Linked DNA regions of Homo sapiens: regions 2 and 3 are each linked to region 1. Evidence: fine-mapped expression QTL. A gene starts in region 1. Each other region holds a variant in brackets. All regions are shown on one strand. Distances are between the middles of the regions. Region 1 holds the start of MCM7 (minichromosome maintenance complex component 7). Region 2 overlaps ZKSCAN1 (zinc finger with KRAB and SCAN domains 1). Region 3 has its middle 15 kb from the start of CYP3A43.

The links. PIP is the estimated chance that this variant, and not a neighbour inherited with it, causes the effect.
Region 2: its variant is fine-mapped to the expression of MCM7 in whole blood (TOPMed, PIP above 0.99).
Region 3: its variant is fine-mapped to the expression of MCM7 in lung (TOPMed, PIP 0.98).

Annotation. Positions count from the first base shown.
Region 1 is chr7:100,095,039-100,104,575 of GRCh38, forward strand. It overlaps MCM7 (minichromosome maintenance complex component 7), which reads right to left and starts at 6,359. Exons shown (of 15, transcript NM_005916.5): 1 at 6,226-6,359; 2 at 4,976-5,055; 3 at 4,551-4,715; 4 at 4,241-4,365; 5 at 3,985-4,165; 6 at 3,540-3,677; 7 at 3,103-3,252; 8 at 2,796-2,910; 9 at 2,576-2,707; 10 at 2,263-2,346; 11 at 736-1,129; 12 at 349-432. The coding sequence starts at 6,256. It overlaps AP4M1 (adaptor related protein complex 4 subunit mu 1), which reads left to right and starts at 6,605. Exons shown (of 15, transcript NM_004722.4): 1 at 6,605-6,734; 2 at 6,842-6,930; 3 at 7,637-7,743; 4 at 7,826-7,922; 5 at 8,371-8,481; 6 at 8,574-8,654; 7 at 9,054-9,116. The coding sequence starts at 6,677. RefSeq lists enhancers at 463-963, 5,554-5,713, 6,059-6,611, 6,634-6,683 and a silencer at 5,824-5,923.
Region 2 is chr7:100,035,724-100,046,013 of GRCh38, forward strand. It overlaps ZKSCAN1 (zinc finger with KRAB and SCAN domains 1), which reads left to right. Exons shown (of 6, transcript NM_003439.4): 6 at 1-5,966. Among named protein-coding and RNA genes, the nearest start is that of ZSCAN21, 8.9 kb to the right of the region's middle. RefSeq lists enhancers at 1,607-2,108, 2,109-2,608. The variant G/A (reference allele first, on the strand shown) is at 5,841.
Region 3 is chr7:99,808,231-99,818,520 of GRCh38, forward strand. No RefSeq gene overlaps it. Among named protein-coding and RNA genes, the nearest start is that of CYP3A43, 15 kb to the right of the region's middle. RefSeq lists enhancers at 648-1,251, 1,252-1,854. The variant A/T (reference allele first, on the strand shown) is at 4,264.

The DNA.
Region 1 (9,537 bases):
CGTGGTGGCGTGCGCCTGTAATCCCAGCTACTCAGGAGGCTGAGGCAGGAGAATCGCTTGAATCTGGGAGGCAGAGGTTGCAGAGAGCTGAGATCACTACACTCCAGCCTGGGTGACAGAGCAAGACTTCGTCTCAAAAAAAATAAATAGTGTAGGAAACAAAATTTCCTGTGTCCCTATGATATGAAGTGTGGAATTTTCCACTTAAAAGCTGATCTGAGGCTCTGGACATGTCTGTAGCGGGAAGTGGTGGTGTGAAAAACACACACCCTAAGACTAATAAGCACTTTTTCAGGAGGCTCGCACGGCCCACGCCAACGTTTGCCCACCCGCACCCAGCTCTCCTACCTCATGAGCTTCATGTCCAGAGGTTCAAACTGGGAGGGGGGCTGCCGGCTGTGCTGGTGCACATAGGTGATGTGCTGGGCCAACCTGGACAGAGGGAAGGTTAGAAGGAACACCCTTTTTAGGGCTACGCACCCATGTCCTCTTAGGTGTCCCTCCTTTGGCTCTGCCACTTCCTCACAGTGTAGGAGGGACAAGCTTTCCCGGGAAATCCTCATCAGCATTTCAGCCCCAACCCACCATTTCCCTGAGAACCATGGACCAGCCCCTGCTGCAAAGGGGAGGCTCTGGGGTTTCCAGGAGCGTGGAATTTGTTTTCTGATTCACCTCTCCTCCTCCCTACACAGATCATTACAGGGGACCTCTCTTTGGGTGTTGAGCTTCATTCACCGTAGGTCATTGTCTCGGTCGGGCCGGTCCTGAATCAGCCAGAGGAGGTCAAACCGGGAGAGCAGTGCAGCAGGTAGCTGTATGTTCTGCTCCAGGCTGCGGCGAGGGTTGTAGCGCCCGTAGGCAGGGTTGGCGGCAGCCAGGATGGAGCAGCGGGCATTGAGTGTGGTGAGAATGCCGGCCTTGGCAATGGAGATGGTCTGCTGCTCCATGACCTCGTGGATGGCTGTGCGGTCGGCCTCAGCCATCTTGTCGAACTCATCAATGCAGCACACACCCTGGTCAGCCAGCACCAGGGCCCCACCCTCTAAGGTCAGTTCTCCACTCACGGAGTCTCTCAGCACAGCTGCCGTAAGCCCCACTCCTGAGGAGCCCCGGCCTGTTGTGTACTGGCCTGGAAGAGAAGAAATAAGGAACCATGAGAGAGAAAGAACAAGAAAGAGAACAAGCAAAAGACAACAAACGGGCCAGGGAGGCGAGGCCTGCGCTGGGATCATTCCACTCCCTCCACCAGGCCTTCTTGAGATGCCCGAGGATCTGTGGGGCACTGGCAATGTCCCCCTTCCCCTCCCACTGGTTCTCTTCAGAACACAACTGTGGCTCACTGAAACCTTGGCTCCTGGGCTCAAGCCATCCTCCGGCCTCAGCCTCCCAAGTAACTGAGACTATAGGCACTCACTACCACACCCAACCAATTTTTAAAACTTTTTAGTAGAGGCCGGGCGCAGTGGCTAACTCCTCTAATCCCAGCACTTTCGGAGGCCGATAACAAGGCGGGCAGATCACGAGGTCAGGAGTTCGAGACCAGCCTGCCCAACACAGTAAACCCTGTCTCTACTAAAAATACAAAAAGTGGCCAAGTGTGGTGGCACGCGCCTGTAGTCCCAGCTACTCGGGAGGCCGAAGCAGGAGAATTGCTTGAACCTGGGAGGCAGAGGTTGCAGTGAGCCAAGACCATGCCATTGCACTCCAGTCTGGGTGACTGAGACTCCGTCTCAAAAAAAACAAAAAACAAAACAATACCCAAACAACAAAAAAAACTTTTTAGGCCGGGTGCGGTGGCTCACGCCTGTAATCCCAGCACTTTGGGAGGCCGAGGCGGGCGGATCACGAGGTCAGGATATCGAGACCATCTGGCTAACACGGTGAAACCCCGTCTCTATTAAAAATACAAAGAATTAGCCAGGCGTGGTGGCGGGCGCCTGTAGTCCCAGCTACTCGGGAGGCTGAGGCAGGAGAATGGCGTGACCCCAGGAGGTGGAGCTTGCAGTGAACCGAGATAGCGCCACTGCACTCCGGCCTGGGCGAAAGAGCAAGCCTCTATCTCAAAAAAAACAAAAACAAAAACAAAACTTTTTAGTAGACATGGAAGCGGTCTCAAAATCCTCGCCTCAAATGATTCTCCTGCCTCAGCCTCTCAGAGCATTGGGATTACAGGCGTGAGCAAACATGCACCCCTACTTTTTGAATAAACACTGTGGTCCTGTCTGTCACTATATTCACCTCCCGCAAAGCCCAACTACTTACTGCGAGGCGCCAGTCGATCAATGTATGACAGGAGCTGAGACTTGGCCACACCAGGATCCCCCATCAGACAGATGTTGATGTTGCCTGGAGGAAGGGAAGGCAGCCCTGGAATGACTCTTCTCCCAGTGCTTGGCCAACAACAGAGCAATTTTGAGTTCTGCCTACCCCTAACACCCAGCACTATTTCTAAGCCCTCCCTGTGTCCACGAAGGCAAGATGTCCACTCATACTGTGACCTACAGGGACACTTGTCATCCTTTTTTCCTCCTAAATGACTTCATCCACCCTGAGCCTCTCCCTTGTTTCTTCTTACCCCGGATTTTCATGCCTCGAGGAGACTGGTCCACACCCCCGACTAGCAGGAGCAGCAGTGCCTTCTTCACATCTTCATGCCCGTATATTTCTGGGGCGATTGAAGCTGCCAGCTTTTCGTAGAAATCCTCCTCTGTAGAGAAGTTAAGGTTGTTTTATTTTCTGGGGGAAAAGGGAGCTAGGATGTAAACGGAATTTCCTCTCTCTCCCCTGCCCCTCACCTGCAATTTGCCTCAGCTCCTCCCTGGTGAGCTCTCCAGCCCCAGACTCATCATCCTCACTCTTGTTCATCTTCACAATCCGATGGGCTTCCAGGTAGGTTTCTGAGAGTAAACCCTTGGGCAGGAAAATGCCAGGATACAGATGTAATCCCTTCAACTTGCCCATCACTGGATTCCCTAACAATTTCTTGACAAATCCCTGGGTTCTGTTTTGTTTGGGGTTTTGCTGCTCTTTTCTCTGTGTGGGTAGAATGAGTAGGTGAGGGAAAAGGGGATGATCCATTCCTCATGTCAAACTCTTCCTTACCTGTACCACCTGTCGGAACCCAGTGCGCAGGATTGGCAAGAAAATACCAGTGACGCTGACGTGGTCTCCAGGCTGGGCAATCCTTGTGTTCTCTCCTTCTACCAGCACCGTGATACTACGAGGGATATTTCCCACAGGCACCTGATCACTCTAGGGGAGGGAAAGGCACATAAGACTAGGAGAAATGGACAAGGACCCAACCTTCCCTCCCTAGGCATCCCACTCAAAGGCTCCCAGGCTACCCAGCCACAGACAAGCCCACAGCAGGGGTGCTGAGACCTCCTTTCCCCTTCCCAAGGCTCCCAGGAAATTCTAGTTCCACCTCCCTCCTGCACTTCCCTCTTTTGTTCTTCTTTCTTCCTGCCATTCCACAAGTGACTACAGGATTCAAGTGGACTCCCGATCCACCTGCCCAGGGCCACGTACCCCAAACTCACATGTTCTTGCATCTTCATCTCCTGGAATTTGATGAATCTGGAGCCCCGTGTCTGCAGATACAGCCGCCCTCCTGAGCGGTTGGTTTGGCACTCCTGGCTTGGGCACATGATCAGAGGCATGAAAGTGGGAGACTGGATCTAGGATGTGAGAACAGAAACACCAAAGGAACTCAGAAGGAAAAGAGCCCCATTGGGTCGGTCCTTTGAATCACATTTTCTCTTCATGGCAGACATCTTGTAAGTGTCAAGAACCCTCTGAACTTACTCTGGGTCAACAACAAACACCCAGAAAATAGGTAGAAAGACCACTACATACCCAAGAATGAAAGGCGAACACACAGGCAACTTTTACAACCAAATAAAACAATAGGCATCACAGGATCAAATTAATCTCTACAAAACAACTAATGGGTAAGTGCTTTCCTGCTTCTTGCTCCACACGTACCGGCTGGTAGGTCTCTGCCCCACACTGGTCACAAGTGTAAGTGGCCACCACCATCTTGGGTTTGACTTCAGAGACACGAGTGACGATTCCACGCACAGTTACCAACTTCCCCACAGAGTCAGCCCGCACTTCCCGGATCACACGAGGCTTGTTGCTGCTAGGGCCTTGAAAATACAGCTCACTAAGGGGAGAAAACAGTCACAAACAAGATCCTGGAGAACCAATCCCTACATCTTTCCCGACAGAGACCACTCACAATCTGCGCATGAGTTCAGCAGGGTACTGGTTCTGGGGGCTTCGGACCATCCCAGGGTCCCGACTCCGCTGCTCCATCATTAGCCGATGCTCAATGTAAACGTCCAGGACATCTTTATTTACCACCTAAAGGAGAAGAACAAAAAAAAAAAAAAAAAAGAGCAACAGGATGGGGAAAGGAGAGCACAGAGAACACCAGGCAGAAGTGCCCCTCCTTTCTGCCTGCTCAGAAAACATCAGTATCTGAGCAGCCTCTCTACAGAAGCTTAAACGCCTCGCCCTTTGTTTGCCATTGTTCTCTAACCACTCACTTCCCTCTCCTTGTACTGAGGCAGCAGCTCTTGTACGGCATCAGCAAAGAGCTTCGCGTAGCGCCTGGCATTCTCACAAATTGAGTCCACCAACTCGGGGTCATCCTCGGCTACGTCGTCCAGGTCCACATACAGAGCCACCTGTTCCCGATGAGCCAGCCGAACCTCAAGTGGGGAAGAGACAGAAACACCTCAGAGCCACATTCACTTTGCTCACCAGTGTTCATATGTGAAAATGCATCACTGAGAACTCAGCACAGGCTCTGGGCATCCACAGGGGAGAACGCAGCGCCACACAGAGCGATACTCGCTTTTCAGCCCTCAAACCCTCTAATTGTTATGTCTTTAATAAAACAAGCCAAGCTGCTGCTTATGGCTCCTTAAGCACCCCGCTCCCCATTCCCTTTACCCAATCTTAGACTTACCAACTGGTTCCCATACTTGAACTGCTTCTTCCCGAGTTCATCATCCTGGTAGAACTCTTGTAAGAACTTCTTAACCTTTTCTGTAACATGAAATGTAAAACCGTAAGACACAAACTTTAAGACAAATCTTAGATACCCATTTTCGCTTAAAACACGACCTATGAACTAATTAATAATATGAGCATTTAAATAAACCTACCGAAGTCTCCCCAAAGTGGGCATAACTCTTTTTCACAAGTCTGTTTCTAACCAGCGAAGAATAAAGAGCCCGTGGCAGTGCACAGGGCCATCCAACATCTCCCCAGGGGAATTCCGGTCCCTACTTTAGTTTAAAATTCTAGCGCCCTTCCCCGTTGGCCCCTCACACTCCGGTCTCAAGGTTCTCAGCTTTCTTTCCACCCCTATGATCCCCCGCCTTCTTTGGGTCCCCTTAGCCCCTGATTTCACCGGGACCTCCGCCACCGCACCCCGCCACCGCACCCCACCCCCGCTCCCGCCATCGCTTCCGCTCTTAGTAAACAAAGAAGCACATGGGCCCGGATTCCAGCCGCTTCACAGCTCGGGATTCCTCCGCCCAGGGCGGGAGCCAGTCCAGCCATTGGCCATCACACCCAGAGACACCGCGATCCCAGCCCACTGCCGCCTTTCCCGGGCCCGAGCGAAGCTCCGGATCCCAGGCACGCCCCCCCGGGCCGCAGCTCTCTCCGCGGCCGCCGCGCGGAAGGACACTGTTTACACGACACTCCCTCCAGCCTCCTCGCGCCACTTCCGCCCGGCTCCACTTCCGCTCGGAGGGCGGCCTCAAACGGCCAATCCCGGCGCGCAGCGGCCCCGGCCTGCCCGCCCCCGGGGCCTACGCGCGCCTGGGGAGGGCGCGGGAACCTGGGAATGCCCAAAAGCGCGAAGGAAAGCGGGCACGGGAGCCCAGAGCCCTTAAGACTCTCCTGAGGTCCTGGGCGCGACTTTTCCCTGTGCAGCCCCCAGCCGGGTTAGCGCGCCCCCAAGCCCCCAACCCCACGACCCTAACACCTTTACCAGGTGGGATTACTAGCTTTTCTTCAACATCGATGGCCCCCCGCACGCTTCCCAGGCCCCGTGGGCCTTAGCCAGGCCGCAGCTCGACCCTGCCTCTGGCCTCGCGCACCCCAGAACCCGCCGACCCCGGTCCCCCAAGACCCCAGCTCACACCAACAGGTGTTCCCCGGGAGGCTCCCCGCGCAGGACGCCCTCCCGGGCTCGTAGACCCGTACCCTTCTCTAGCGCGTAGTCCTTCAGTGCCATCGCTGCCGAGGGCCGTGCGGCCGCGCTTGGCGGGCTCAGAGGTCTTGCTCCTGGGGAAGCTGAGAATCTCCGCGCGGTGGACTGTGGCCGGCCAACCGAAATTGGCGCGAAACGTCGCCCCCCACGTGACCGGCGCCACTGCGTGCGGGCCAATCGGACAAGGCGGCCTTCTTCACCTCCCGCTAGCCGCAAGCCAATCACCGTGCGGGCCTAGAATGAGTGACGGGGAGGCGGTGCGGGCGTCGGAAGGGAATCTCCGGGCGGGGTAGTGCAGGCGCCGGGTTTCCCGCGGTCCGAGCTGGCGCGGGCGGAGGAGAATCGCTCTTAAAGGGCCAGCGCACACGCGTTCTTTTGTTCCGGGGCCGCAGGGCGGGGCAGGCCCGACTTTCGCCGTCTTCTTGTCTACTCTCCAGAACGGCCATGATTTCCCAATTCTTCATTCTGTCCTCCAAGGGGGACCCGCTCATCTACAAAGACTGTATCCTAGACCCTTGGGGCTGGGAAGGGGCGGAGGGGCCGGGCGGGAGGGGCGCCCAGGGCCAGCCTGTGTCGCAGGATCCTTCACTGAGTCCTTCCACCCGCCAGTCCGCGGGGACAGTGGCGGCCGGGATGTGGCCGAGCTCTTCTACCGGAAGCTGACGGGACTGCCAGGAGACGAGTCCCCGGTTGTCATGGTAACCAGTGGCGGGAGGCGGGTGAGGAGCGGGGTCCCGTCGGGCCGGGTGGGCGCCAGCTCCCTCCCAGGACTGGTTCATTGGTAGATTCCACTTGGGGGGTGCATTCCGCCAAATAAAGCTAACGTGAGGCCCGGCGCGGTGGCTCACGCCTGTAATCCCAGCACTTTGGGAGACCGAGGCGGGCGGATCACCTGAGGTCAGGAGTTCGAAATCAGCCTGGCCAACATGGTGAAACTCCGCCTCTACTAAAAATACAAAAAAAAAAAAAACATAGCTGGGCGTGGTGGCGGGCGCCTGTAATCCCATCTACTCGGGAAGCTGAGGCTTGAGAATCGCTTGAATCCAAGAGGCAGAGGTTGCAGTGAGCCGAGATCCGGACACCGCACTCCAGCCTGGGAGACAGAGCGAGACTCCCTCTCGGGGTAGGTGGGGGTGGGGAAAAAAAAAAAAAGAGTCAATGGGCGCCAGCAACACACCAGGCCCAGCTCCCTGCGTGACTCCATCCTCAGCAACTCGGGGTAGTTAGTGTAATTAACCCCCTTTCCACATTGGGAAGCTGGGCCCAGGCATATGTCATGTATCTCCCAAAGGCACTGCTGTTGTGACTAGTAAGAGGCATCGGGATCCGAGCTCAGGTCTCCTGGGTTCTGATCACTCCACCTCCCTTTTTTTAACGCCTCTCTTCTCCCTGCCTGTGTCTCAGCATCACCATGGCCGTCATTTCATTCACATCAGACACAGCGGCCTCTATTTGGTGGTCACAACTTCAGAAAACGTTTCTCCCTTCAGCCTCCTAGAACTGCTCTCCAGGTGAGGAGGGTTGGGCTGGGCACCTGGTAGCTAGGAGGGGTCTGAGAGGAGGAGAAAATACACGCTCCAAGTGTTTCCTCAGGTTGGCCACCCTTCTGGGCGATTACTGTGGCTCCCTGGGCGAGGGGACCATCTCCCGCAATGTGGCTCTGGTATACGAACTCCTGGATGAAGTGCTGGTGAGAATCAACAATCCCCTTCTGTGGCCCCTACCCAATTCCCCTGAAGATACATCTGCTCTTCTACTGTGGGATGCCGTGGTTAGGAGGCCAAGTCTACCTTTTTTTTTTTTTTTTTTTTTGCTTTTAGAGACAGGGTCTTGCTCTGTTGCCCAGGCTGGACTGCAGTGGTGCAGTTATAGCTCACTGCAGCCTGGAACTCCTGGGCTCAAGCCGTCCTCCTGCCCCAGCCTCCCCTGTGCCTAGCTAATTGTTTATTTTTTGTAGAGACTAGAGTCTCACTGTGTTGCCCAGGCTGGTCTTGAACTCATGGCCTCAAGCCATTCTCCTACGTCTCGGCCTTCCAAAGCGCTGAGAGTACAGGAGTGAGTCACCATGCCTGGCCCCACTCCCCCTCTTTACCCCTTCCCTCCACTGATCACTCAGACTGTCCTTCCTTTACCACTAGGACTATGGCTATGTACAGACCACATCCACGGAGATGCTGAGGAATTTCATCCAGACGGAAGCTGTGGTCAGCAAGCCCTTCAGCCTCTTTGACCTCAGCAGCGTTGGCTTGGTCAGTAGAGGGAAAGAGGAGGGTGAGGAAAGAGAAGAGGGGTTGGCTGGGGTTGTCAGACCTGATGATTGATTGCTTTGGATGCTTTACAGTTTGGGGCTGAGACACAACAGAGCAAAGTGGCCCCCAGCAGTGCAGCCAGCCGCCCCGTCCTGTCCAGTCGCTCTGACCAGGTGAGGGAAGGATCCATGGGGTCAGACGCTCTGGTTTTGCTCTGGGATCCGGGAGTCCAAGATCTTAGGTCGGGCACAGCGGCTCACGCCTGTAGTCCCAGCACTTTGGGAGGCCGAGGTGGGCAGATCACCTGATGCCAGGAGTTTCAGAGCAGCCTGGCCAACATGGTGAAAACCTGTCTCTACTAAAAATGCAAAAAAAAAAAAAAAAAAAGAAAAAGATCTTGGCACATCTCCCACCCCCCCAGATGTGGGTGGAGGTGGGAGATGATCCCTTCCATCACCCATGTCCTCACCCTAGAGCTGTAGCTTTGACTGTCCTGTTCTTTCTCCCTGTCTGTCCATTTCAGAACATAGGCTATTCTGCTTCCAACCACCCAAATTCTCTCTCTTTCTCAGAGCCAAAAGAATGAAGTTTTTTTGGATGTGGTCGAGAGATTGTCTGTACTGATAGCATCTAATGTAAGTTTGAGCTCCCAAACCTGGAGCTGAGGACAGATGGGACTTGGGAAACATGGTGGGGTGGCTAAGACTCCCAGCAACGGCCGGGCACAGTGGCTCATGCTTGTAATCCCAGTGCTTTGGGAGGCCGAGGTGGGAGAATTACTTGGGGCCAGGAGTTTGAAACCAGCCTGGGCAACATAGCCAGACCCCGTCTCTACAAAAAATACAAATAAACAAATTACCCAGACATGGTAGTGTACACCTGCTGTCCCAGCTACTTGGGAGGCTGAGCCAGGAGGATCACTTGAGCCCAGGAGGTTAAGGCTGCAGTAAGCCAAGATCGAGTCACTGCACGCTAGCCCGGATGACAGAGCAAGACCCTGTCTCTTAAAAAAAATAAATAAGTAAAAAAGGCTGGGCACAGTGGCTCATGCCTGTA
Region 2 (10,290 bases), 59 kb before region 1:
GACTTTTCTGTTTCTTATCACTAAAGACTGAGGTGAGGTTATGAAACTTTCATTGGTCCCATCGTTGTGCGCAGGGTGCAACTGGCTACCTAGAAGCTGATGGCAGGAGACTGTTTCACACACAGGAGATTGTGAGCTGTGTAAGTAGTCATCGCCACTCAAGTAGGACAAGGGTCCTACCCAAGGCTAGGACCGCCCTGCGGAAACAGAAACATAGACTGAGAACAAACCTCAAGACTATCAGTGTGACCTCCCCATAACAAGAGAACCCCATATATAGTTTGAGACTTTCCCTTGAGAAACTTATACTAAAACTATTACTCATCAGTCATTCACTGATCAGCAGCTAAAGTCCATGAGACCAAATGGTTTTATATGGAACCAACGAAGTGGGAGCTAAAACTGCACAGTGGTCATTCTTTGGCCTCTCCTTGGCTTTATGACTTAAACCAACTACAACTTCCCTATAGCTTCTAAGCAGTTTCATCAGCATTACTTGGGAAAACGTGTTGCAAGTCAACCAGTCACTAGGATATTTCTACCCATGCAACGGAAGAAAAACCCATTACTCCAGAAGAGTATATCTAAGTAACTAAAATGGAGGCAGAAAATGTTTTAAGGATTTTCTTCAAAGAATAAGCCACAGCAATGGTTTTGTAGAAAACTCCTGTGCTTTTGAGCAAGGACTTTTGCCCTCTAGAAAGCAACTGAGGCCAGGTGCGGTGGCTCACGCCTGTAATCCCAGCACTTTGGGAGGCCGAGGTGAGCGGATCACCTGAGGTCAGGAGTTTTGAGACCAGCCTGGCCAACATGGTAAAATCCCGTCTCTACTAAAATTATAAAAATTAGCCGGGCATGATGGTGGGCACCTGTAATCCCAGCTACTTGGGAGGCTGAGGCAGGAGAATCACTTGAACCCAGGAGGCAGAGGTTGCAGTGAGCCAAGATTGCACACTGCACTCCAGCCTGGGTGACTAGCAAAACTCCATCTCAAAAAAAAAAAAAAGAAAGAAAGAAACTGAAAAGTGAGGTGTGGAACTCCAGGCAACGACCCAAGCACTTATTTTTTAAGAGGGAAAGGACTTTGGTCATGTTTACATTGGCCTTTGGTTTTTTTTTTTCTTTCAGCCACAACTATATGCTGATATAACTCAGCCATCACTTTTGAGTTTTGTTTTTAAATGAAGGTTAAATGTGACCTGTGCCCTCACATTTAATTCCGTTTCATGGAGACATCTTCCTGACTTTGTTGGATAGCTGCCACTAGGGTTGCTTCGATCTTCAGCCACATGCTGTCCTTGAAGCAGCTATTTGAAGATGTGTTTTCTGAGGAAAACAGGCTACAACTGTTTATTAAAACCACTTGCAGTGCATTCGTTTATCAGATGCTCAGTGCAAAGTGTAATTGGGTCATGGTCAAAAACGCTTGCAACATCTAATTGGCGTTCAAGATAGTCATTCAAAAGTTCTTGGCCCGCTGAAGTCTGTTAACAGTTGAAACATTCTACAGTTAACCATTAGCATGCTAGTTGTCCTAATGGAAATTTTTGAAGAGTTTTTCAATATATACCCTACCCTTGCCAGGAAGAGAAGTAAAATCCTCAGGTTGTGGGGTATTTGTTTCTACTCCAGCCTGGCAGGCAAGGCTAAAACCTGAGATTATCGATCTATGAGACATCTTGATATGTAAAGCACTTAATATTAAAGGCATAAAAGTGAAACTGCTAAATATGTATAGAGAGGTTGACGTGTGATACGTGGGACAGTTCACATAGACATCAGAGAATTTATTCCAGAAAGGAGCCTCCTGAATGTGATGAATACGGCAAAGCCTTTAATCACATCTCAGCCCTTAGCATCGGAAAGCTTATACTGTAAATAAACTTGATGAATATTATATGTGAGGAAAACTTTCATGTATAGCACTCATTGCTTCAGACAGAAAATGAATTCCGTCGGTATGTTCCAATCGTGATGAATTTGAGAAACATTGCAAGAGGGAGCTCAATCTTGGCCGGGCGCCGTGGCTCACGCCTGTAATCGCAGCACTTTGGGAGGCCGAGGCAGGCGGATCACGAGGTCAGTAGTTCGAGACCAGCCTGGCCAACATGGTGAAACCTTGTCTCTACTAAAAATACAAAAAAAAATTAGCTGGGCACAGTGGCGCACGCCTGTAGTCCCAGCTACTCGGGAGGCTGAGGCAGGAGAATGGCTTGAACCTGCGAGGCGGAGGTTGCAGTGAGCTAAGATCATGCCACTGGCACTCCAGCCTTGAGTGACAGAGCGAGGCTCTGTATCAAAAAAAAAAGTTGCGGGGGGGTGCTCAATCTTAACTGCAGAGGATCTACAGATGAAAAAAAATGTGGGGAAATGCTTTAAAAAAATAGCAAAATGTGCAACTTCTTACAAAAATTGTTAACGTTAGGTACTTCTATATATTTTATATGACCATAATGTCCGTGTGTGTTTTGTACCTTCAGTCCCTTGTTATTGTTCCGTATATTACCTGTAAGCAGATACTGTATTTTATTTTAGCCTATTTGACAGAACACATCACTCAGAAAAAGTGAAGTTTCAGAGCAAACAGTGAAGAAATCAGTGTGATTGTAGACAAAAAGTCGGTTCACAGAACGGAGCAGCGGGGAGAGGAAGGGAAAAGCTTCATAGTTTGGTGCTTATCACATCAAGAGATTGGTAAATTTCTGAGGAAAGACAGGCTAATGGGGCACTGAAATGGAACAACTCCTTTAAACGTGCAGCCTTTTGAATTTTTCCTCAAAACCAAGAAGTTGACCTCTGAGCTGTCAGGTGACCACTGTGTGCAAAGGGGATGGATTCTCTTGTCAGTAGACGGTCTTCTCCATGAAGCGAGAGTAGGAAGTGTACTGGAATGGCCAAGTGGGACTGCTTCAGCTGACCAGGTTCTTTTAAACCGTAGTCATGCTTTCCCACTAACTCTTAAATCCTTATGCTTAGAAAATTGAGGATAAGGCTGGGCACAGTGGCTCAGGCCTGTAATCCCAGCACTTTGGGAGACCAAGGCGGGTGGATCACAAGGTCAGGAGATCGAGACCATCCTGGCTAACATGGCGAAACCCCGTCTCTACTAAAAATACAAAAAAATAGCTGGGCGTGGTGGCGGGCGCCTGTAGTCCCAGCTACTCAGGAGGCTGAGGCAGGAGGATCACTTGAACATGGGAGGCGGAGGTTGCAGTGAGCCAAGATGGCGCCACTGCACTCCAGCCTGGGTGATGGCGTGAGACTCCATGTCAAAAAAAAAAAAAAGGTTGGGGGGAGGATAGGACTGGCCAGGCACGGTGGCTCACTCCTGTAATCTCAGCACTTTGGGAGGCAGAGGTGGGCGGATCACTTGAGGTCAGGAGTTTGAGACCAGCCTGGCCAACGTGGTGAAAGCCTGTCTCTACTAAAAATACAAAAATTAGCCGGGCGTGGTGGTGGGCGCCTGTAGTCCCAGCTACTCAGGAGGCTGAGGCAGGAGAATCACCTAAATCTGGGAGGCAGAGGTTGCAGTGAGCCGAGATTGCACCACTGCACTCCAGCCTGGGTAACAGAGACTCTGTCTCAAAAAAAGAAAAAAAAAAAAGAAAGAAAGAAAGAAAATTGGGGATAGGAGAACAGCAAGGTGGGCATTTCCCGGAATTGTGTGCAGATGCATCCAGTCGTGGCATTGCAAGAAGTCTGTCTGATGAAGCTCGGGAAGCATTTTGCAATATTCCCTTTGGCTGTGTTCCTGTGTTCCCTGCTCCCACTTTTCTTCCCCTGGTTTGTGATTATTAGGAGAGAGGTTTTGCAAAGACTCGTTGCTGTGAAAGAATCTTTTTTTAATTTTTATCCTAGAGTCAGTCACTTTTATTCCAGGTAGTCATGCTGATCTGCTTATCCAAAGCCAGCTAACCAGGTTCATCCTACCATCCTCATGGAAGACTGTGTGTATGAATTGGAGTAACAGAACTGAAATACACTTAAACAGTGACAGCAGTACTTCCCAGGGTGGGGGCCATATTTCTCTGTGTCCTACTCTGAGCAACTTCTCAGAGATACGAGGGGGCTAGGGTTTTCCCATCTGGGAAATGGGGTGAAAGTCTGCAGATTGTTAAATGAAATATAGAATCAGAGAAAAAGAAAAGTCAGTGATATAAATAGATCATTTCATAGAAATTAGGGTAGATTTTTATTTCAACTACTACTGGAGAATTTAATAAAAGGCATTATTTGAAAAGTTTTTCTAACATAGATTTAGGGTTTTTTTTTTTAGAGTGGACACACTACATTTAAAAGCAATTATTTTGCTATTCAGATTTTTTATTATCTGAAAATGAAATTATCTGTTTTACTTTTCAAAGCTTTGTGAAACAAACTTGAAGTTATAGGGAGGTAAGCCATCTCCAACTCTGCAGGTCAAACGAAAGTTTGGGAAATACTTTTGACATCCCACAATACAGAATGTCTTAACATGAGAATTGAATTTCATGATGTGTGGTTCCATTTAATAGCGGACACCACCCCAATCTCATGTTTTCCTGTTACCCTAAAACAGTGGAAGGAAACTGGGTGTTTGGTAGACTTCTAAATCATGGTCTCTGACAATTTGAATCTGAGATTCTCACCTCCATTTACTAAAGAATCGTGACTTAATTCAAATTGCACAGTAATCAGTAAAGTGAATACGTTTTTAAAATGGAATTTTCTCCCTTCAGCAAGCACTCATTAAGGAGTGAGGCTGAGTATTTTAAGATAGAGTGAGATCTGTGAGTGATTGAAAGGTGATATTTAAAAACTTGGATTTCATTCCAGTGTCAGGTTTGGGTTTTAAGTTCCTTTGGTCCAGGGAAGGGTCCAAGCAGCCACAGTTGCCCTAAATCTCCATCATTAAGTCTTCCAGCAAGGTTAAGTGCAGTATGGAAGGAGAAGGGGGAAGAGGACGGTAACGGCCCCACACTCCAGGCTGAGAAAGAGTAATTAGGAGGCCTGAGGAGGGGCCGAGGAAAGGCTGTTGGGGTGTGCTGGGGTTGGTACCCGAGCGCCTTCCCCTCACCTCAACCAGAGAAGAGCATCCGGTTGCTTTTTAAAGCTTTTAGCCTGCCCTAGCAAGGACAAAGCATGTTAGATTAGAGATGCTTCTGCTGATCGCAGGGGTTCTTATTTGAAAACATCTATGATGGGGGTGGGGTGGGAGGAGACAGGTTGTGGTTATGCAGGAAAATCTTGTCCTAAAAATATATGAGTTTGGGGGTAAGGGGTGGGATAGCCAAGCAAAATCAGTAATTATTTTAAAATGAACATATGTATTTTTATTAACTTTTAGTTAAATACAGATTTTACAACGAGGTCAGCATAAGCCTAAATCTATATAGAGGGCTAACTCAGGCATTGTCTTGTTTATTTGTAGACTGGATTAAAAACAACCTGTCCTGTTTTGTCAGTTCCCAGCTTCTTCGTTTAGAATAAATTAGACCAAAAGAAGAAACGTGCTTGTCTCTGTATACCCGCAGAATGAAGTTACTGTTGTTAAAACTGGATTTTTTCATTTTACTAGGTTCCGAAGAGTCCAGATGCTTGGTAGATGTTCAATACGTGATTTTTTTTTTAATTGAATGTGTTCATTTAAAATCCTCCTTAACATTTCTAGAAAGACTTCTTTCAATAAATAATGGAATCTTAGAGGAAAAGTGGTTTTTTAAAAGCTAGGGAACTCCTCCACTAAAAGTAACCATTGGAAACCTCGAATGAGGGCTAAAGTTTTAATCATAAGAGAAAAGGCAGCATAATGAAATGTGTACACATACATAGTCAGTGGTCCATTTTAGGAAGCCAGTGGC[G/A]TCTGATAAAGAAATGTTAAGAGTAGTGAGGTTGAGGAAGGAAATTGTGGGGATTTGAAATATTCTCTTTATGTTGTTTCTCTTCTGAGTCATGGTAAAACAATAAATTATCATCTCTAGGTGGCAGTGCTTGTGCTGGTTTGTTTTTTGTTCTTTGTTTTTCTCATCCTTGGTTGCATAAATACACATTGGGGGTGAAGAAAAAAAAGTATTCCAAAGTTAAAAGACTGGAGCTGCAACCCACAAACAAAATTCTCATGCAAAACTATCTGTTTACTTTGCAAACCAAAATTAAATTTCAAAGGCCACCCAGTCACCTGAATGGACCTCTCCTCTCAGCCAAGGGCATTCCAAAGTTAACCTGAAAAACTAGTTCAGGCCATGATGGGAAGGGGGAGCCAAACATGCCTCATTATACCCTCTCCCCATATGGAATTACTGATAACAACAGACTCTTTAAGACTGATAGACATGGCCAGCCATGGTGGCTTATGCCTGTAATCCCTGCAGTTTGGGAGGCCGAGGCAGGCAGATCACCTGAGGCCAGGAGTTCGAAACCAGCCTGGCCAACATGGTGAAACCCCCTCTCTACTAAAAATACAAAAATTAACCAGGCGTGGTGGCGGGCGCCTGTAGTCCCAGCTACTCGGGAGGCTGAGCCAGGAGAATCACTTGAACCCAGGAGGGGGAGGTTGCAGTGAGCCGAGATCGCACCACTGCACTCCAGCTTGGGCAACAGAGTGAGACTTTGTCTCAAAAAAAAAAAAAAAAAAAAGGTGAACTGGGAGGATGTGAGGTTGTGTCCAGGAGGCATCCAAACACATCTCTGACTGTTTTTACTCACACTTCTGACACAATGTGGGATTTTTTTTCATACACCAACCAATTCTCTGGACACCAACTGGGTGCCATACGATTCAATTCAATTCTGACACTACCTGTAACTGATGCAGACTCCACAGGTTGTGGGCTCAGTCCCTCAAGACTGCCCCCATTTCAGACGCCAGTCTTACATTCCGGGTTTTCACCTGTGCTTTGGACCGGCTATAAATCAAGGGCTTCCACAATCTTCTCCTCAGTCTCAGGTTTGATAATTTGCTGGGATGGCTCATAGGTCTCATATATATTTTTATTATATATACACATGTGTATGTGTATATGTGTATAGATACACGTGTGTGTGTGTGTGTGTGTGTGTATACGAATACACCACCACACCCAGGTAATTTTTGGGTTTTTTTTTTTTTTTTTTTAGACGGAGTCTCGCTCTGTCTCCCAGGCTGGCGTGCAGTGGCGCCATCTCGGCTCACTGCAAGCTCCGCCTCCCGGGTTCCCGCCATTCTCTTGCCTCAGCCTCCCGAGTAGCTGGGACTACAGGCGCCCGCCACTGTGCCCGGCTAACTTTTTTTGTATGTTTTAGTAGAGACGGGGTTTCATAGTGTTAGCCAGGATGGTCTCGATCTCCTGACCTCATGATCTGCCTGCCTAGGCCTCCCAAAGTGCTGGGATTACAGGCGTGAGCCACCGCACCTGGCCTTTTTTGGGTATTTTTTGTAGTGACAGTCTGGCTATTTCCCAAGCTGGTCTTGAACTCTTGGGCTCAAGTGATCTGCCTGCCTTGGCCTCACAGGTGTGAGCCACCACACCCAGCCCTATTTTTTCTTAATAATTATTTTTTCTTTTATAGAGATGGGGGTCCCCCTATGTTGCCCAGGCTGGTCTCGAACTCCTGTCCTCAAGCAATCCTCCCACCTTGGCCTCCCAAAGTGCTGGGATTACAGGCGTGAGCCACTGTGCCCGACCCAGAACTGGATTTTATTTTTCTTTATTTTTGTAAGACAAGTCTCGTTCTGTTGCTCAGGCTGGAGTGCAGTGGCACGATTGTGGCTCACTGCAACCTCAACCTCCTGGACTCAAGCAATCCTCCTATTTCAGCCTCAGCTGGGACTACAGGCATGCATCACTACGCCTAGATTTTTTTTTAATTTTTTGCAGAGACAGGGTCTTGCTATGTTGCCCAGGCTGGTCTCAAATTCCTGGGCCTCAAGCAATCCTCCCACCTCAGCTTCCCGAAGTGCTGGGATTATATTCATGAGCCACCATGCAAGGGCCTAAAATCCAGTTTTAGCAAGAACCCTGCTAAGTTTAGCAAAAACCTCCCACCCTCCATATCTACTTAGGCTTTTTTCTTTTTCTTTTCTTTCTTGATTTTTTTTTTTTTTTTTTTTTTTTTTTTGGAGACAGAATCTCTCTCTGTTGCCCAAGCTGGAGGGCATGATCTCAGCTCACTGCAACCTCCACCCCCTGGGTTCAAGTGATTCTCCTGACTCAGCCTCCCGAGTAGCTGGGACTACAGGTGCACACCACTACACCCAGCTAATTTTTGTATTTTTTTTAGAGACGGGGTTTCGCCATGTTGGCCAGGCTGGTCTCGAACTCCTGACTTCAAGTGATCCACCTGCCTCAGCCTCCCAGGGTGCTGGGATGACAGGCGTGAGCCACCGCTCCCAGCCCATATCTAATTACTCTTGATATTTATCTGGTCAGGTTCCTTGTCCTCCACCATCCCCCAGGCGATGTCTGATCAGCCTGGCCTGTGTTCAGCAAGAATACCCCTTCCCTCTGATGTTTCCTCTTGATCATTTTCCATACACTGACCCCCATCCTGCTCCTTGGCTATAAATTGCCACTTGCCCATGCTGTGTTCAGAGCTGAGCCCAATCTCTCTCCCCTCACTGCAAGACCCCACTGCAGTGGTTCCTGTATTTATTAGGATGGTCCTGAATAAAGTCTTCCTTACCATGCTTTAACAAGTAGCACTGAGCCGGGCATGGTGGCTCACGCCTGTAATCCCAGCACTTTGGGAGGCTGAGGCAGGCGGATCACGAGGTCGGGAGATCGAGACCATCCTGGCTAACACGGTGAAACTCCGTCTCTACTAAAAAAAATACAAAAAAATAAAATAAAATTAGCCAGGCGTGGTGGCGGGTGCCTGTAGTCCCAGCTGCTCGGGAGGCTGAGGCAGGAGAATGGCGTGAACCCGGGAGGTGGAGCTTGCAATGAGCTGAGATCGTGCCACTGCACTCCAGCCTGGGTGATGGCGTGAGACTCTATCTCAAAAAAAAAAAAAAAAAAAAAAAAAGTAGCACTGAATAATTTTTTTCATGAAGTTTAACTCCACCATTCCACTTTCATTCTCTTTTCCTTTCAATTTCTTTAGCAAATGTCTTTGCAGCTTTCCAACATGCTGCACATGTCTTCTGCTTCCTGGAAGAAAAAGGACATGTTCGGAGTTGTCATGCGCCAGAGGCTTGCCCAGCCTGCTCTAAGGGAAGTCACGGTTTGGTTACCCTCTGCTGGCCAGCTGATGGCAGCAAAAATAGGTGATGATGAGAACGAGCGAGGAAGATCCAGAAATGCACCTTTTTAGAGAGAACCATGAACACCTTACTGGAAATGGAAGGAAGGTGCCAGAGACAACACTAAATGCTGGAATCTTTTCCTCTCCTGGGTTTCCGCTGCAAAGGGCACTGGAATTATTTTTCTTTTGTCAAGCCAATAATCTCCCAGGCATGGTGGTGTGCATCTGATCCCGCTACTTGGGAGGCTGAGGCAGGAGGATTGCTTGAGCACAGGAATTCTCGACCAGCCTGGGCAACATGGCGAAACCCCTACGAAACATTTTTTCAAAAAATAGGTGCGGTGCGGGTGCGGTGGCTCACGCCTGTAATCCCAGCACTTTAGGAGGCCGAGGTGGGCAGATCCTGAGGTCAGGAGATCCAGACCATCCTGCCCAACATGGTGAAACCCCATCTCTACTAAAAATACAAAAAGCTAGGTGTGATTGCGCATGCCTGCAATCCCAGCAACTTGGGAGGCTGAGGCAGGAGAATTGCTTCAACCAGGGAGTTGGAGGTTGCAGTGAGCCGAGATGGCGCCACTGCACTCCAGCCTGGCGACAGAGCAAGACTCAGTCTCACCAAAAAAAAAAAAAAAAAAAAAATTGTCCAGCATGGTGGCGTGCATGGGAATTATTTTTCTTTTGTGGTCCCAGCTACTCGGGAGGCTGAGGCAGCAGGATTGCTTGAGCCCAGGAGTTCTCTACCAGCCTGGGCAACATGGTAAAACCCCTAGAAATAATTTTTTAGGGGCTGGGCGCAGTGGCTCACGCCTGTAATCCCAGCACTTTGGGAGGCCGAGGCGGGTGGATCACGAGGTCAGGAGATCGAGATCATCCTGGCTAACACGGTGAAACCCCGTCTCTACTAAAAATACAAAAAATTAGCCGGGCATGGTGGCGGGTGCCTGTAGTCCCAGCTACCCGGGAGGCTGAGGCAGGAGAATGGTGTGAACCTGGGAGGCGGAGCTTGCAGTGAGCCGAGATCACGCCACTGCACTCCAGCCTGGGCGACAGAGCGAGACTCCGTCTCAAAAAAAAAAAAAAAAGAAA
Region 3 (10,290 bases), 290 kb before region 1:
GAATAACAGTCTCAGGTTTGTCTATGGCCTCTGCGGGAAGTCGGGATACCTAAACAGAGCGGGCTATCTAAATCAGGTGAGATGTGTCTCCCCTCTCAGCAAGAGTCCCACTCCACACAGGCACAGAAGCCCCAGGTGGGTCCACAAGTTTGTGGTAAACACATTCACCTGTCCAAACCCAAAGAATGAACTTGGAGACATGAAGAACAGTGGAAGTGAGACTTTTTTTTTTTTTTGAGACAAAATCTCGCTCTGTTGCTCAGGCTGGAGTGTAATGGTGTGATCTCAGCTCACTGCAACCTCTGCCTCCCGGGTTAAAACGATTCTCCTGCCTCAGCTTTCTAAGTAGCTGGGACTATAGGTGTGCACCACCATGCTTGGAAATTTGTGGCCTAGAACCCCAATTCAACTGCAAATCACTCCTTGACTATTTACTGAATGCTTGCCATGGACAATGTCCATGTATTTTTGTATTTTTTGTATTTTTAGTACAGATAGTGTTTCACCATATTGGCCAGGCTGGTCTCAAACTCCTGGCCTTGGCCTCCCAAAGTGCTGGAATTAGAGGTGTGAGCTACTGCACCTGGCCGGAAGCAAGACTTTTAATGGTGGCCTTGCAAGATCGGGTGTCTGGTAGGCAGGTACAACCAGGGCAGTTACAGCAGGTAATTTATCTCCTAGCACAGAATTCCTTCCCCCAGTTCCTCATTGGTCAAGTACTACAGAGTTATCTTCCTGGACATCGCCTAAGTTTCATTATCCCCCTTATAAGGTTATACCCCGGTTCCCTTCCCTGCTTAAGTTTGACTTCCTGATAATAAAACTTTCTTCCCTTTTATGGGCTGACCCCTCCTCTACATTCTGTTCACTTATTATGACCTTCTAGGTGCATGAGCCGTGCAGTTTGTTACATCCACAGGCTGGCTGCCAGTGCTTAGATTTACCATGCCTTGAAAATGGATCATTTAAGGGGGAGGAGCCAAGATGGCCGAATAGGAACAGCTCCGGTCTACAGCTCCCAGCGTGAGCGACGCAGAAGACAGGTGATTTCTGCATTTCCATCTGAGGTACCGGGTTCATCTCACTAGGGAGTGCCAGACAGTGGGCGCAGGCCAGTGTGAGCGCGCACCGTGCGCGAGCCGAAGCAGGGCGAGGCATTGCCTCACCTGGGAAGCGCAAGGGGTCAGGGAGTTCCCTTTCCGAGTCAAAGAAAGGGGTGACGGACGCACCTGGAAAATCGGGTCACTCCCACCCGAATATTGCGCTTTTCAGACCGGCTTAAAATACGGCGCACCACGAGACTATATCCCACACCTGGCTCAGAGGGTCCTACACCCACGGAATCTCGATGATTGCTAGCACAGCAGTCTGAGATCAAACTGCAAGGCGGCAACGAGGCTGGGAGAGGGGCGCCCGCCATTGCCCAGGCTTGCTTAGGTAAACAAAGCAGCCGGGAAGCTCGAACTGGGTGGAGCCCACCATAGCTCAAGGAGGCCTGCCTGCCTCTGTAGGCTCCACCTCTGGGGGCAGGGCACAGACAAACAAAAAGACAGCAGTAACCTCTGCAGACTTAAGTGTCCCTGTCTGACAGCTTTGAAGAGAGCAGTGGTTCTCCCAGCACGCAGCTGGAGATCTGAGAACGGGCAGACTGCCTCCTCAAGTGGGTCCCTGACCCCTGACCCCCGAGCAGCCTAACTGGGAGGCACCCCCCAGCAGGGGCACACTGACACCTCACACGGCAGGGTATTCCAACAGACCTGCAGCTGAGGGTCCTGTCTGTTAGAAGGAAAACTAACAACCAGAAAGGACATCTACACCGAAAACCCATCTGTACATCACCATCATCAAAGACCAAAAGTAGATAAAACCACAAAGATGGGGAAAAAACAGAACAGAAAAACTGGAAACTCTAAAACGCAGAGCGCCTCTCCTCCTCCAAAGGAACGCAGTTCCTCACCAGCAACGGAACAAAGCTGGATGGAGAATGATTTTGACGAGCTGAGAGAAGAAGGCTTCAGACGATCAAATTACTCTGAGCTACGGGAGGACATTCAAACCAAAGGCAAAGAAGTTGAAAACTTTGAAAAAAATTTAGAAGAATGTATAACTAGAATAACCAATACAGAGAAGTGCTTAAAGGAGCTGATGGAGCTGAAAACCAAGGCTCGAGAACTACGTGAAGAATGCAGAAGCCTCAGGAGCTGATGCGATCAACTGGAAGAAAGGGTATCAGCAATGGAAGATGAAATGAATGAAATGAAGCGAGAAGGGAAGTTTAGAGAAAAAAGAATAAAAAGAAATGAGCAAAGCCTCCAAGAAATATGGGACTATGTGAAAAGACCAAATCTACGTCTGATTGGTGTACCTGAAAGTGATGTGGAGAATGGAACCAAGTTGGAAAACACTCTGCAGGATATTATCCAGGAGAACTTCCCCAATCTAGCAAGGCAGGCCAACGTTCAGATTCAGGAAATACAGAGAACGCCACAAAGATACTCCTCGAGAAGAGCAACTCCAAGACACATAATTGTCAGATTCACCAAAGTTGAAATGAAGGAAAAAATGTTAAGGGCAGCCAGAGAGAAAGGTCGGGTTACCCTCAAAGGAAAGCCCATCAGACTAACAGCGGATCTCTCGGCAGAAACCCTACAAGCCAGAAGAGAGTGGGGGCCAATATTCAACATTCTTAAAGAAAAGAATTTTCAACCCAGAATTTCATATCCAGCCAAACTAAGCTTCATAAGTGAAGGAGAAATAAAATACTTTATAGACAAGCAAATGCTGAGAGATTTTGTCACCACCAGGCCTGCCCTAAAAGAGCTCCTGAAGGAAGCGCTAAACATGGAAAGGAACAACCGGTACCAGCCGCTGCAAAATCATGCCAAAATGTAAAGACCATCAAGACTAGGAAGAAACTGCATCAACTAACGAGCAAAATCACCAGCTAACATCATAATGACAGGATCAAATTCACACATAACAATATTAACTTTAAATATAAATGGACTAAATTCTGCAATTAAAAGACACAGACTGGCAAGTTGGATAAAGAGTCAAGACCCATCAGTGTGCTGTATTCAGGAAACCCATCTCATGTGCAGAGACACACATAGGCTCAAAATAAAAGGATGGAGGAAGATCTACCAAGCCAATGGAAAACAAAAAAAGGCAGGGGTTGCAATCCTAGTCTCTGATAAAACAGACTTTAAACCAACAAAGATCAAAAGAGACAAAGAAGGCCATTACATAATGGTAAAGGGATCAATTCAACAAGAGGAGCTAACTATCCTAAATATTTATGCACCCAATACAGGAGCACCCAGATTCATAAAGCAAGTCCTGAGTGACCTACAAAGAGACTTAGACTCCCACACATTAATAATGGGAGACTTTAACACCCCACTGTCAACATTAGACAGATCAACGGGACAGAAAGTCAACAAGGATACCCAGGAATTGAACTCAGCTCTGCACCAAGCGGACCTAATAGACATCTACAGAACTCTCCACCCCAAATCAACAGAATATACATTTTTTTCAGCACCACACCACACCTATTCCAAAATTGACCACATAGTTGGAAGTAAAGCTCTCCTCAGCAAATGTAAAAGAACAGAAATTATAACAAACTATCTCTCAGACCACAGTGCAATCAAACTAGAACTCAGGATTAAGAATCTCACTCAAAGCCGCTCAACTACATGGAAACTGAACAACCTGCTCCTGAATGACTACTGGGTACATAACGAAATGAAGGCAGAAATAAAGATGTTCTTTGAAACCAACGAGAACAAAGACACCACATACCAGAATCTCTGGGACGCATTCAAAGCAGTGTGTAGAGGGAAATTTATAGCACTAAATGCCTACAAGAGAAAGCAGGAAAGATCCAAAATTGACACCCTAACATCACAATTAAAAGAACTAGAAAAGCAAGAGCAAACACATTCAAAAGCTAGCAGAAGGCAAGAAATAACTAAAATCAGAGCAGAACTGAAGGAAATAGAGACACAAAAAACCCTTCAAAAAATCAATGAATCCAGGAGCTGGTTTTTTTAAAGGATCAACAAAATTGATAGACCGCTAGCAAGACTAATAAAGAAAAAAAGAGAGAAGAATCAAATAGACACAATAAAAAATGATAAAGGGGATATCACCACCGATCCCACAGAAATACAAACTACCATCAGAGAATACTACAAACACCTCTATGCAAATAAACTAGAAAATCTAGAAGAAATGGATACATTCCTCGACACATAC[A/T]CTCTCCCAAGACTAAACCAGGAAGAAGTTGAATCTCTGAATAGACCAATAACAGGCTCTGAAATTGTGGCAATAATCAATAGTTTACCAACAAAAAAGGAGTCCAGGACCAGATGGATTCACAGCCGAATTCTACCAGAGGTACAAGGAGGAACTGGTACCATTCCTTCTGAAACTATTCCAATCAATAGAAAAAGAGGGAATCCTCCCTAACTCATTTTATGAGGCCAGCATCATTCTGATACCAAAGCCGGGCAGAGACACAACCAAAAAAGGGAATTTTAGACCAATATCCTTGATGAACATTGATGCAAAAATCCTCAATAAAATACTGGCAAACCGAATCCAGCAGCACATCAAAAAGCTTATCCACCATGATCAAGTGGGCTTCATCCCTGGGATGCAAGGCTGGTTCAATATACACAAATCAATAAATGTAATCCAGCATATAAACAGAGCCAAAGACAAAAACCACATGATTATCTCAATAGATGCAGAAAAAGCCTTTGACAAAATTCAACAACCCTTCATGCTAAAAACTCTCAATAAATTAGGTATTGATGGGACGTATTTCAAAATAATAAGAGCTATCTATGACAAACCCACAGCCAATATCATACTGAATGGGCAAAAACTGGAAGCATTCCCTTTGAAAACTGGCACAAGACAGGGATGCCCTCTCTCACCGCTCCTATTCAACATAGTGTTGGAAGTTCTGGCCAGGGCAATCAGGCAGGAGAAGGAAATAAAGGGTATTCAATTAGGAAAAGAGGAAGTCAAATTGTCCCTGTTTGCAGACGACATGATTGTTTATCTAGAAAACCCCATTGTCTCAGCCCAAAATCTCCTTAAGCTGATAAGCAACTTCAGCAAAGTCTCAGGATACAAAATCAATGTACAAAAATCACAAGCATTCTTATACACCAACAACAGACAAACAGAGAGCCAAATCATGAGTGAACTCCCATTCACAATTGCTTCAAAGAGAATAAAATACCTAGGAATCCAACTTACAAGGGATGTGAAGGACCCCTTCAAGGAGAACTACAAACCACTGCTCAAGGAAATAAAAGAGGACACAAACAAATGGAAGAACATTCCATGCTCATGGGTAGGAAGAATCAATATCGTGAAAATGGCCATACTGCCCAAGGTAATTTACAGATTCAATGCCATCCCCATCAAGCTACCAATGACTTTCTTCACAGAGTTGGAAAAAACTACTTTAAAGTTCATATGGAACCAAAAAAGAGCCCACATCGCCAAGTCAGTCCTAAGCCAAAAGAACAAAGCTGGAGGCATCACACTACCTGACTTCAAACTATACTACAAGGCTACAGTAACCAAAACAGCATGGTACTGGTACCAAAACAGAGATATAGATCAATGGAACAGAACAGAGCCCTCAGAAATAATGCCGCATATCTACAACTATCTGATCTTTGACAAACCTGAGAAAAACAAGCAATGGGGAAAGGATTCCCTATTTAATAAATGGTGCTGGGAAAACTGGCTAGCCATATGTAGAAAGCTGAAACTGGATCCCTTCCTTACACCTTATACAAAAATCAATTCAAGATGGATTAAAGATTTAAACGTTAGACCTAAAACCATAAAAACCCTAGAAGAAAACCTAGGCATTACCATTCAGGACATAGGCGTGGGCAAGGACTTCATGTCCAAAACACCAAAAGCAATGGCAACAAAAGTCAAAATTGACAAATGGGATCTAATTAAACTAAAGAGCTTCTGCACAGCAAAAGAAACTACCATCAGAGTGAACAGGCAACCTACAACATGGGAGAAAATTTTTGCAACCTACTCATCTGACAAAGGGCTAATATCCAGAATCTACAATGAACTCAAACAAATTTACAAGAAAAAAACAAACAACCCCATCAAAAAGTGGGCGAAGGACATGAACAGACACTTCTCAAAAGAAGACATTTATGCAGCCAAAAAACACATGAAAAAATGCTCATCATCACTGGCCATCAGAGAAATGCAAATCAAAACCACTATGAGATATCATCTCACACCAGTTAGAATGGCAATCATTAAAAAGTCAGGAAACAACAGGTGCTGGAGAGGATGTGGAGAAATAGGAACACTTTTACACTGTTGGTGGGACTGTAAACTAGTTCAACCATTGTGGAAGTCAGTGTGGCGATTCCTCAGGGATCTAGAACTAGAAATACCATTTGACCCAGCCATCCCAATACTGGGTATATACCCAAATGACTATAAATCATGCTGCTATAAAGACACATGCACACGTATGTTTATTGCGGCATTATTCACAATAGCAAAGACTTGGAACCAACCCAAATGTCCAACAATGATAGACTGGATTAAGAAAATGTGGCACATGTACACCATGGAATACTATGCAGCCATAAAAAATGATGAGTTCATGTCCTTTGTAGGGACATGGATGAAATTGGAAACCATCATTCTCAGTAAACTATCGCAAGAACAAAAAACCAAACACCGCATATTCTCACTCATAGGTGGGAATTGAACAATGAGACCACATGGACACAGGAAGGGGAATATCACACTCTGGGGACTGTGGTGGGGTCGGGGGAGGGGGGAGGGATAGCATTGGGAGATATACCTAATGCTAGATGACACGTTAGTGGGTGCAGTGCACCAGCATGGCACATGTATACATATGTAACTAACCTGCACAATGTGCACATGTACCCTAAAACTTAAAGTATAATTAAAAAAAAAAACATTAAAAAAAAAAAAAAGAAAATGGATCATTTAAAATGTTTTCTCACACCCACCAAAAATAAAAATTTTAAATTTAAATAAATAAAAATTTAAAAAAGAATTTCCAGAAGATTTCTTATGACAGTGGTTCTCAACCACTAGCTGTTCATTGTGATCACCTGGGAGTTTTAAATATTCACGATGCTTGTGTCATCTCAGAGATTCTAAAATACTTTCCCCACAGTGTTGCTTTAAACATCCTCTCCATTGCTTCTCATGTGAAACCAAATTTGAGAATCACTAAATCAAGACATTTCTTCCAGAGTAGAAAATCTCCCAGAGGTCAGGGTCATCCTGACTGTTAGAACTCACCTTCCAGGACCCTTCCTGCTGACAAGCCAAGCTAGTTCTCAACCCAACAATAATTCTATGAATGTTCTTCCCTCTCTCTTTCTTATCCTCTCCCCATCCTTCATGTCCTGGTTCAATCCCCAACCTCCTCCGAAAAGCCCTTCCATCTAGTCCAGGGCCCATTCAGTCCTCTGCTTTGTTATTCATTACTGCAGGCTGTTATCATCACCTGATTTCATATTTGTCACTAAATCATTCATGTTTGTTTACTAAGTTCTCTCTATATCTAAGAATGTCTGTCCTCAGCCCCTTAAAAAATATCACTTCATTTTATTTCTTTCATAAAATTCAAATAGCACTTTGCAGGGGACATTTCCATGGCAAGCATTCAGTAAATGTTCAAGGAGTGATTTGCAGTTGAATTGGGGTTCCTGGCCACAAATTTTAAGGTATTTAATTTTTAATTTTAATCTGACATTTATGTATGTGTGGGTGTTTGTGGGTGTGTTTGTCTGTCTCTTAGAAAAATACATTCATGTCACTTTAAAATTAAAAATAACATGGTGTTACCTTTATAGAAAAGTTGGGATCTTTTCCCTGATGAACTTAAAGACAGTTGTCATTGATTGATGTCAAACAAGACCTTCTAAGTCTTATTTCTAGGATTCATGCATTCAATATGCAACTCCTTCTCTGAAGCAGGATTTCTGCATGGGAATGGAGGAGGGTAGAGATGGTTTTCATCCTATTTGTGGCTTAATGGAAGCTTTGTAGCCAATCTGTGCATCTGTACAAATAGGGGGCTCAGTGCGGGAGAAAGCAGGCTTGTGGCACATTTGGGAAGGGGAAGATAGTCCCTAGCCCAGCTCCCAGGCATCTACAGGCTGATGTTTCTCAGTCTCTATAGCAATTTGCTTGCCCTCCACTCAACTGAGATTGGAAGTTACAGTGTTGCTGACTTGATAAGAGTGAGGCTAAAACTATGGTCAAAATGCTGTAGGACTTGAGAAGTTCCCCATTTGCACTGCTCTTTGTAGCCAAGATGAGATGTTAAAAGCAAAAGCACAGGCCAGGCGCGGTGGCTCATGCCTGTAATCCCAGCACTTTGGGAGGCCGAGGCAGGCTGATCACTGAGGCCAGGAGTTCAAGACCAGCCTGGCCAACATGGTGAAACTCCGTCTCTACTAAAAATACAAAAATTAGCTGGGCTCAGTAGTGCCCACCTGTAATCCCAGCTACGGGGGAGGCTGAGGCAGGAGAAGTGCTTCAACTCAGGAGGCGGAGGTTGCGATGAGCCGAGATCACTTCACTGCACTCCAGCTCAGGGCCCACAGAGCAAGACTCTGTTTCAATAAATAAATAAATAAATAAAGTCTCCTGAAGCCCTCTTCCCATCATTTCATAGGATGGGTTTAATTAGGAGGGGTTACTGGACTTTTCAGAAGTCAATGGCTGCTTGTATAATTAAAATGTATAATATCTACTCAAGATTTTTTTTTTTTTTTAGACAGAGTCTTGCTCTGTCGCCCAGGCTGGAGTGCAGTGGCAAGATCTCGGCTCACTGCAAGCTCCGCCTCCCAGGTTCACGCCATCCTCCTGCCTCAGCCTCCCAAGTAGCTGGGACTACAGGCACACGCCGCCATGCCCGGCTAATTTTTTGTATTTTTAGTAGAGACGGGGTTTCACTGTGTTAGCCAGGATGGTCTCGATCTCCTGACCTTGTGATCCGCTGGTCTTGGCCTCCCAAAGTGCTGGCATTACAGGCATAAGCAACCACGTCCAGCCTACTCAAGATTATTTTGCAAGTTTTAACATATACAAATTTAATTGTATATGGCTTTTCAAAAATAGTTTACCATACTGCTTGAGAATCTAGATTTAATATTTAAAAGTCATCCTTTTTACTAAGAATTTCTATCAAGATCAGGCTCAGTGGTTGATGTCTGTATTCCCAGTAATTTGGGAGGCTGAGAGAGAAGGATTGCTTGAGCCCGCACTTTGAGACCAGCCTAGGCATTATAGCAAGACCCCATATCTACAACAACAAATAAAGTCTGGACATGTTGATGCATGCCTGTAGTTCCAGCTACTCGAGAGGCTAGGGCAGGAGGATCACTTGAGCCCAGGAGTTTAGGGCTGTATTTCTGCTGACTTTTAAGAATGTCGAGGATTTACTTGTCACATAATTCATAATTCCTCAGGGCAAGGAGACATGGAACGTGGGTCAGTGATGATAATGAGCCAGTGCCATTTCCAAAGGCTCAGCTTTGGGATCTCTTCCAGCAAGCAGGCATAGAGGGGCTCTCAGATGACAGCATTGCTGTCGCAGGCCTCATCCTTACCAGCTCCTGGGGTAAATATTTCACTCTTCAGAAAGCAGGATGTGTCTGTTCTGACCCCTACTACCCCAAAGAAGAAGCTCAAATCATCTTATTGGAGTCCTTGATGTTGTATGTGCTGCTTGTAGTGACATCAGCCACATCCCTGGTGGCTAAGGTGGCTGGAGTCCACCTGGCAATCCAGGTAGCTGTTCTCCTCTTCTCTCCTTTCACACCCATTGTTCCCAGACATGCATTATTTCCAGAGAGAGGGGCATTCTTTGGTCAGGAGCATCTCTAGCTTTCCGTCTTCTGCAGAACCATTTGAGGGGGTGCACAGGAAGCAGCACAGTATGCTGCTTCTCACTGAAGCCGTCATCTTCATCTCCTTCCCTGTGTCTCCATTACAGGCCCTCTTGACAACAGAATCCTGGTGGATCATTCTGAATGTACAGGAATGGCAGCTGAGGCCCAGCCAAAAGCTCTTGCTGTATGCAGGAAAGTGGCTTGGTCACCAGAGTCCTAGGGAAAGAGTCCCAGGAAAAGTTTTGCAATATGCAGCAATCTAACCCAACTAAACTCAACAAATCTTTCTGGATGCCCACTCTGTGTAAAGGACTCAGCTAGGGCCTGCAGACAT